Regions from separate parts of the Homo sapiens genome. Here regions 2 and 3 are each linked to region 1. The links come from fine-mapping of genetic effects on gene expression. A gene starts in region 1. Each other region holds a variant in brackets. All regions are shown on one strand. Distances are between the middles of the regions. Region 1 holds the start of B4GALNT4 (beta-1,4-N-acetyl-galactosaminyltransferase 4). Region 2 overlaps PKP3 (plakophilin 3). Region 3 overlaps ANO9 (anoctamin 9).

Evidence for each region. PIP is the estimated chance that this variant, and not a neighbour inherited with it, causes the effect.
Region 2: its variant is fine-mapped to the expression of B4GALNT4 in whole blood (TOPMed, PIP above 0.99).
Region 3: its variant is fine-mapped to the expression of B4GALNT4 in whole blood (INTERVAL, PIP 0.94).

Annotation. Positions count from the first base shown.
Region 1 is chr11:368,128-370,873 of GRCh38, reverse strand. B4GALNT4 (beta-1,4-N-acetyl-galactosaminyltransferase 4) reads right to left here and starts at 1,375. Exons shown (of 20, transcript NM_178537.5): 1 at 920-1,375. The coding sequence starts at 1,070. RefSeq lists an enhancer at 2,304-2,746.
Region 2 is chr11:404,337-407,082 of GRCh38, reverse strand. It overlaps PKP3 (plakophilin 3), which reads right to left. Exons shown (of 13, transcript NM_007183.4): 13 at 2,175-2,549. The coding sequence ends at 2,514. SIGIRR (single Ig and TIR domain containing) reads left to right here. Exons shown (of 10, transcript NM_001135054.2): 7 at 1-21; 8 at 90-240; 9 at 545-734; 10 at 1,024-1,367. The coding sequence ends at 1,187. Among named protein-coding and RNA genes, the nearest start is that of SIGIRR, 9.3 kb to the left of the region's middle. RefSeq lists silencers at 1-231, 242-291 and an enhancer at 868-1,561. The variant G/A (reference allele first, on the strand shown) is at 1,378.
Region 3 is chr11:438,736-441,481 of GRCh38, reverse strand. The region is part of intron 1 of ANO9 (anoctamin 9); the gene reads left to right. LOC105376506 (a long non-coding RNA gene) reads right to left here. Exons shown (of 5, transcript XR_007062542.1): 3 at 2,731-2,746; 4 at 1,502-1,583; 5 at 809-997. It also overlaps the pseudogene RN7SL838P. Among named protein-coding and RNA genes, the nearest start is that of ANO9, 1.9 kb to the left of the region's middle. The variant GA/A (reference allele first, on the strand shown) is at 1,553.

The DNA of each region.
Region 1 (2,746 bases):
AGGAAGAGAACACAGGGGCTTTGGCAGGTGGAGTGGCCCAGGAGTCCCCAGCCAGTATCATTGTTCTGCCCCCTCAGGACACCTGGCTCCCTGGAAAAGGCTCAGAGGCAGCCAGCTGGGGTCTCTCCTGGTCTGGGCATGGCACTAACCTCCCTCCTCCAGAGGGGGCATTCTGCCCCACCTTCTCCCCCAACCCCACCGCCAGGCTTTCATCTGCGCCTTCCTGTCTGGAATGCTCTTTCCCCCAAAGGTGTATGTCAAAGATCACCATCTCCAGGAGGCCCTACCCCGGCTGGCTCACCGTGACCCCATCTGCTTTGTTTGTGGGTTGGGGTTGGGAGAGTTTACGCCAGGCTCCCCAAGCTGGGCCCCATCCCTACGCATGGACCCCCACAACACTGGCACAGTTCACCGAAGGCGCCCCCGCCGGGAAGCGTCCCAGCTGCACCGGCCACTTCAGCAAGCCCCGGCCCGGGTCCCCAGCACACAGGGAAACTGAGGCCCTGCTAAGCGGGCAGGGGGTGGAGGCGAGGCCTGAGAAGGCCTCTTGGAAGCCTCAGCAGGGTCTAGGGGCAGAGACTTCCCCAGGAGCCCACCGTCAGCCCCTCACTACCGGATCCAAGCCAGATCCCAGAGTCAGGGACCCTCTCTGGGAGGGTCGCGCGCGTCACTGCCGACGTCATCGAGCGTCCGGGCCGAGCCGAACCGCGCCCCCTCCCCCCAAATCGCAGAGCGGAGAACAGCGGGCGGGGTCTCCGGGAGGGTCGGGCCCAGCCGAGACCTCTGTGCGGTGGGAGGCCCGGCCCGCGCCCCGGGGCCCCCGCCGCCCGCGCCGCCCGCGCCCCCCGCGCCGCCCGCGCCCCCCGCGCCCCCCGCGCCGCCCCCGCCCCCCGCGCCCCCCGCGCCCCCCGCGCCGTACCTCGCCCGTAGCCCAGGCGCTGGCGCAGCGCGCGTCCCTGGCGCACCAGGCCCAGGTGCACGTAGGTGAGCCACGCGGCGCAGCTCAGCAGCAGCAGCAGCAGCAGCAGCTTCATCTGCTTACGGATCTTCTTCACCGGGAGCCGCGGCATCGCGGCCGCCGCGCCCGCCCCAGGCCGCGCTCAGCGGCGCCGCTGCAGCCCCCGGCCCCCGCCCGCCCCGCGCCGCATCCCCGGCCCGCCCCGCCGCGCTCAGCGCCCGCGGCCCCGCATGGTCCTTTGTCCGCCGTGCGCGGCCACCGGGTGCGGCCGCGACCCCCCCAGGCCGCCCTCGGCCGCGGGCCCGGGGTGGGCGGCGGGGGCGGCTCCTCGCGGTGCCCCCCGCCCGGCCGCTCCCGGCTCCGCGCTCCTGGGGCGGCGGCGGGACCGAACAGCATCCACGGCTGCCACCGCGGATCGGGCCCCGGCCGCGCGCGCGGAACCAATCGGACCGAGCCAGGCCGCGGGGAGCCAATGGCGGCGCGCGGGGAGGGGTGCGGGGCGCGGGAAGGCGGGGCGGGGCGCGGGGTGCGGGGCGGAGGAGGCGGGGCGAGGGGAGGCGGGGCGGGGCGGGGGGTGCGGAGGGTGCGGGGCGGGGGGTGAGGGGTGCGGGACGGACAGGGATGCGGGGCGCGGGGCGCGCGTCCACCTGGGCCACGGAGCGCGGGGGCGCGGCACACAGACGCGGGGCTGGGAAGCGCTGGGGCTCGGGGACCGTGGGGGGCGGCGGGGGATGGGCACAGCCTGACTGTGGGGCGGGGCGGCCTCCCGAGAACAGTGACCCGAAGGACTGCAGGCGGACAACACGGAGGAGGGAGGGGAGGGACCCGGGGTCCTGGGGGGCGGGGAATGGGGGCGGGCGAGAGAGGCCGGGGGGCGGGGGGGCCCAAGCACCGGCTTCAGCCCAGGGGTGGGAGTCGTTGCGGGATCTCAGCCTGCAGGGCTGGGGCCGCAGGGGGCCGAGCTGTCTGGGCGGCAGGAGGGGCCTCAGCTGGTGGCCCCCGCCCCACCGAGCGCGGCCTGAGGCAGGTGACAGTGTCGTGCCTCTCACCGGGACCTTGTCCCACTTCGTGCCCTTTCTCACCTGGTCTGCACCAACCCCTGCCAGTCCCTCTGTCCCCCCAGTACTTCCCTTGTCCAGCTGCCAGCGTGACCCTACTCTTCTCCCTCTGTCTGCTCAGCTGTCTCTGGGTGTGTAGCAAACCGCCCAGCTTCAGTGCTGTCCAACAGCAGCGTTCCTGTGTTCCTGTGTCCTGTGGGTCAGGAACTCAGGGCACTCGGGGACAGCTCCTCTCTGCTCCTCGAGGTGCTGGCCTCCGGTGGGAAGACGTGAGTGGTGGGGCCGGCTCCGCGGGACAGGCTGGAGCCATCCAGAGACTTCTGCCCCAAGCCAGTGCACCCTCGGCAGGAATGGCTGGGCTCACCCCGGGTGGTTGGCCAGAGCGCCTGCAGGCTCAGCTGCCAGGGGCAGCCTCCCGGTCCAGCACACAGAGTGAAGCATCTTGGAGTCACCCCTCAGGTTTGCCACATGCCGCACGGCCACCCAAGTTCGTGGGTTGTGGGGACGTGGACCCCACCTCACAATGGAAGATTGCCCAGAAGTTGCCTTCTTAAGACCTCAACTCCTTCCCTCCTTCCCCTCCATCCTCCTCCCCTAACTTCTGAGCACAGAAGCAAGCTGGTTACATCCTGCTGTTCATACCGGCCCTTAAACAACACCCGGTCTCTCAAACCTTCCCCCACCCCATCAGCTCCTCATCTCCTGCCTCCTGCAGTCCACTTTTCATATT
Region 2 (2,746 bases), 36 kb before region 1:
CTGGTGCAGCCACAGCTTCCGGTGGGTCCCGCGCGGGGTTGGGTGGGCCCCAGCGTAGCACCCACCCCCCTGACGGTCCCGCCCCGCAGGGAGGGCCTGTGCCGGCTGCTGGAGCTCACCCGCAGACCCATCTTCATCACCTTCGAGGGCCAGAGGCGCGACCCCGCGCACCCGGCGCTCCGCCTGCTGCGCCAGCACCGCCACCTGGTGACCTTGCTGCTCTGGAGGCCCGGCTCCGTGGTGCGGAGCAGGCGCGGGAGGGTCCGGGGCTAGCGGCGGGTTAGAGATGGGCGGTGCCCGGGCTCCAGGCTGGGACCCCTCCGTGGGGAGCTCTGCGGCACCACGCTTTGTGAATGGGCCCTGGGGGGAGGTTCCGCTGCCTGGGGCCCCGATGCGGGGAGCCGCCCTTGAGGCCCCCGGAGCCACGGAATAGCTGTCGCAGGGCGTGGAACCCGTGGGCAGCCGCAGGTGTGCTCTTGGGGGCCAGGACGCCAGGGGCTTCCGAGGTGTTCACACCTGCAAACCGCCCCGACCTGGCCCCCAGACTCCTTCCTCCGATTTTTGGAAAGAAGTGCAGCTGGCGCTGCCGCGGAAGGTGCAGTACAGGCCTGTGGAAGGAGACCCCCAGACGCAGCTGCAGGACGACAAGGACCCCATGCTGATTCTTCGAGGCCGAGTCCCTGAGGGCCGGGCCCTGGACTCAGAGGTGGACCCGGACCCTGAGGGCGACCTGGGTATGCCCGCCCAGCCCCACTCCCCAACTGGAGAAGCTCAGCACAGGGCGGAGTGGGGGCAGGCACAGGGCACAGGGCCTGGAGGGGCTCCAGGTGTTGAGGACTCTTCCCGGCACCGGGAGCCCCTGCACGGCCTCTGCCCTGGAGGTGCTCGGCCCTCGGTCTGCCTGGGAACTTCCTGGGCCTCACAGGCCATCACAGCAGGGGGTGAGCAGGGGCAGCCCCTGGCAGTGGGTCTGGGCCAAGGCTGTGGGTGGCCACCTCAGGCGTCTCGGTCTCCCCACCCCAGGTGTCCGGGGGCCTGTCTTTGGAGAGCCATCAGCTCCACCGCACACCAGTGGGGTCTCGCTGGGAGAGAGCCGGAGCAGCGAAGTGGACGTCTCGGATCTCGGCTCGCGAAACTACAGTGCCCGCACAGACTTCTACTGCCTGGTGTCCAAGGATGATATGTAGCTCCCACCCCAGAGTGCAGGATCATAGGGACAGCGGGGGCCAGGGCAGCGGCGTCGCTCCTCTGCTCAACAGGACCACAACCCCTGCCAGCAGCCCTGGGACCCTGCCAGCAGCCCTGGGAAAAGGCTGTGGCCTCAGGGCGCCTCCCAGTGCCAGAAAATAAAGTCCTTTTGGATTCTGCTGGGGCCTC[G/A]GTCTCCTCCCTTGCGGCGGAAGGTTTCGGATTCGGCTTCCCTCTGCGGCTCTCTCAGCCTTCCACCCCTCCTCTCTCATCCCCACCCCTCCCTCTCTCATCCCCACCCGCCAAATCACCAAATCTGCCCTCTCTCCATCCCCCTTCCTAAGCCAGCTCAGGCGTGTCCCGTGCTTACAGTAGCCTCCTTGGGCCTCCTTGCCTGGTCCCTGGTTGGGGACGTGACTCTTCCTAGACCCTTCCCATGCAGGCAGATCCTGGATGGGGGCAGGCTCCTTAGAGACCTCAAGTTCTGAGCTTCACAGAAACTTTCTGTTTTAAGAATATCCACAGTAACTTCACAACTAAATGGCCTGGCTCTGGGTGAGATGGATGGGGGTGTCCGAGAGCCCACTGGACCCCAAACCTCAGGCAGCCAGTGTGAGAGCCCCTGGTCCAGGCAACTCCAGGCCCAGGGTGGGCGGCGGAGGAGTTGGGTTCATTTGCCGCATGAGTGTAGCCCACGAGGCAGCCACCCTGTTCCTACTCCAGTCACCCCTCTACTCTCGAGGCCCCCAGCTCTGCTCCGTCTGTGCCTGTGGTGCACCCGCTGTCCACCCTGTCCCCTCTCGGCCCTGAGGTGCCAGCTGTCCCTCTGCTGGGCTCTCCATGTCCTATGTCCTCTGATCTTGGGAGGCTTGTGTGTGAGCCCAGGGGGTGGGTGTCCTCAGGGGCAGGGGGTGCCTGGGGACACCTTGAGTCCCAGGATCATGCTGCCAGCCACAGGGTCGGGCCAGCCATGGAAGGACACAGGGCAGTGACTGTTCATGGCCATCTTTATTCCCAGTGCTGGCTATCCCAAGATACTGCCAGGCCACAGCCAACCCCCACCTCTGCCAATGTGACTGGGTCACCACCCCATACACCAGAGCAGCCTTGAGCCCTGCCCCACCCCCTGCCCTGCGGAAGCCAAGTCCCCAGCTATAAGACCCTGCCCCTCCTGGTGGCCCAGGACCCTCAAAGATGCACACAGGGGCCCCAGCGAGGGGCCCCTCCGTCATTAGCCTTCTCCTCCAGGCTGGGCTGCCAAGCAGCCTGGAGCTGAGTCTGTCCCTTGGACGCTGGGCCACGTCACCTTCTCCTCCAGAAGGCTTCACCTATGGGCCCAGGAAGTCCTCCTTCCGATAGCCCTTCTACAGTGGAGAGAGGCCCAAGGTCAGGGTGCATGTCTGCCCATGTGGCCCTCTGCCCGCTGTCCCTCCTGCAGTGTGCTGGGTGTGGCCCGGACCCTTCCTCTCTGGGTCCCTGGTCTCCATCCTCCCATGGGCCTCTTCACTGACCCTCCCCCGGCGTCCCATGCCCTGCACCCGGGTCCCTGCTTGCCCTGGGC
Region 3 (2,746 bases), 71 kb before region 1:
CAGGGTTGGGAGCTGCAGAGTGGCCGGCGGGCTGTGGGCTCTCTGCTCCCCAAGGACCCCGCCCAGCACAGGTGGGGGCCGACTGCTGCTGCTGGATTCCGATTCTGGGGGTGGGCGCTGACTGCTGCTGCTGGATTCCGATTCTGGGGGAGGGAGTGCAGGTGAACACGTAGAAAGACATCCTTTCTCCCCTCTGCCAGTGAAGAGGTCACCTGGGGCCAGGGCCAACACCTGGGCAGGTCAGCACCTGGTCGGCCCAGGGAGGAGGCAGTGGTGAGGTGTGGAGTGAAACCAGCCTCCCTCTCGGCCTGCCAGGGCCTCCACGTGTGGGCTGCGCCGGCGGCCTCTTGCTCCATCTCCGCCCAGGGCTCTCCTCGGCCCTCCACATCCAGGTCTGACACCCTGGCTGCTCAGCCCAGCACCTGATGCCCCTTAGCCTGAGCTCAGGGTCCCCTCTGCCAGCCCCTTCCTCCCATGCTGGGGGTTAGAGGAGAGACTTGGGGCTGGCCAGGGGTTGGGTTGGGAGAAGCAGCACCTGGTTTGTTGGAAGTGAGAGCATCAGTCCTTCAAAAAAGACAGTTGCAGCCGGGCCTGGTGGCGCATGCCTGTGGTCCCGGCTACTCCGGAAGCTGAGGCAAGAGGATTGCTTGAACCCGGGCGTCGTGGCATGCACCTGCAGTCTCAGCTACTCAGGAGGCTGAGGCAGGAGGACTGCTCGAACCCGGGCGTGGTGGCGCGTGCCTGCGCTCCCAGCTACTCGGGAGGCTGAGGCAGGAGGACTGCTGGAACCCGGGCGTGGTGGCATGAGCCTGCGGTCCCAGCTACTCCGGAGGCTGAGGCAGGAGGGTTGCTCGAGCCTGGGAGTTCTGGGCTGTAGTGTGTTAGGCTGACTGGCTGTCCGCACATCAGTATGGTGACCTCCCAGGAGCAGGGGACCACCAAGTTGCCTAAGGAGGGGTGAACCGGTCCAGGTCGGAAACGGAGCAGGTCAAAACTCCTGTGGTGATCAAAAAGGACAGTTGCAGACATGGGGAGGACTTGCTAGTCCCAGCTCCAGGCTGGATCTGGGCGTGCCTTTCCTCTGCTCTAACCCCTTCCATGGCTCCCCACTGCCCCCTGCTGAAGTCCAAGCTCTCCATTTGGCCAAGAAGCCTAGCAGCCTCCCCTGATTGGCCTCTGCCAACCTCCAGCCTCCCCTTCTGGCAGCTCCCTTCTTGCCCTTTATGCTTCTGCAAAGCTGAAGTACCAAGGACTGAGTCCCTGGACTCAGTTTCCGTAGGTGCCGAGTGCTGAGTCACCAGGAGTAGTAGCTACCAAGTCCTCCTTGGAGGTGCTGAGTGCTGAGTCCCTGGGAGGTGCTGACTGCTGAGTCCCAGACACCAACTGCACCCTGATTCTCAGGGCGTGCCCACACATGTTCTTTCTCCCGGGAATGCTGCCCCCATTTTCTCACCTTTTGCCAACCTCTTGCCCTACAATGCCAAGCTCCATGCCTCCTCACCTGCCAAGTAGGCCCCCGCCCCTGCGTCCACGAACGCCACGCACTGCCTGG[GA/A]GGGCTGCACGCAGGTCGCTCCGTCAGTGTCTGGGGATGGACGGGCACACGGATGGGTGAACTGACAGATGACAGACTGGACAGCTGGAGGGGCCGGGGGGTGGGCAGAAGACTGGCTTCAGGAGCGCAGAGCCAGCTGGGGAGGGTTTGCTCAGAGGATGCGTGGGCTGGGCAGAGGCGAGACGCTGTGGCTCACAAGGTGGGCCTCTCCATGCTTGGGACTGCGGTGGGGCAGAAGGGGACCCTCTGTGGATGACGAAACTGTAAAGTTCTCAAGGGCCAGATCCCAGAGGGCTCAGGGCACCGGCCAAGAGGCTTGACGTGACCTCAGGAGGAGATGAGGCCCAAACACCTTCCCATGCACAGCTGGGGGGATGTGCGTCGTGGGACCCCCTGGCCAGGCCTGCTCCTTCTCATGCACAGCTGGGGGGATGTGCGTCATGGGACCCCCTGGCCAGGCCTCTCAGGAGTAGGGTGGGGTCATATCTGCACAACCATCTCCTCTGCCTGCCCCCAACCTGGAGGCTGGACTGGGAAGAGGATGGATGGGCAGGACCCCCAGCTCTGTCCTCACACTCCAGCCCTTGGGAGGGAGGGTCTCCTGCAGGCTACAGTGTCTCCAGAAGCTTCCTCACTGGGAACCAGGGGCTTGCCCACTGGACGCTGGCCTATGCCCACAATGGGGGTGCCAAGAGCCCCCCACAAACTCCCTGGGGCCCTGGAGTACTGGGTGTGTCACCTGTGAGGGCTGTGGGACAGGAAGGATGGGGGAGAACAGTGTGTGGTTCTGTCCACCTTCTTCCTGTGTCTGCACGTCGCTGAGGTGACCTGGGGGCTGGGGTGAGGACACCCTGTTGTACAGACGAGGAAACTGAGGCCTGGGGTGTTTCGGTGGCGTCAGAGCTAGGGCCTGGCCGGCTGTCCACCCAGAGCCGGCCTCCCTCTCTGGGTTTGCAGATGGCAAGGCTGGCTGAAGCTTCAGAGGCCCTCAGACTGAGTGTGTAGGGACAGCCCCTGTCCCTACCCTGGGAGCTGGAAGCCTGTGGGCCCATACATAGTTTCCCGGAGGTGGGGCCCATGGACTGGGGACATGGGGGTCCCAGACATCTCACTGTGGATAAACCGAACAGTCTGCATGGCTGGAAGTGGAGGTGACTTCAGGTGGTCCAGCCCTCACCTGTGAAGACCCCGAG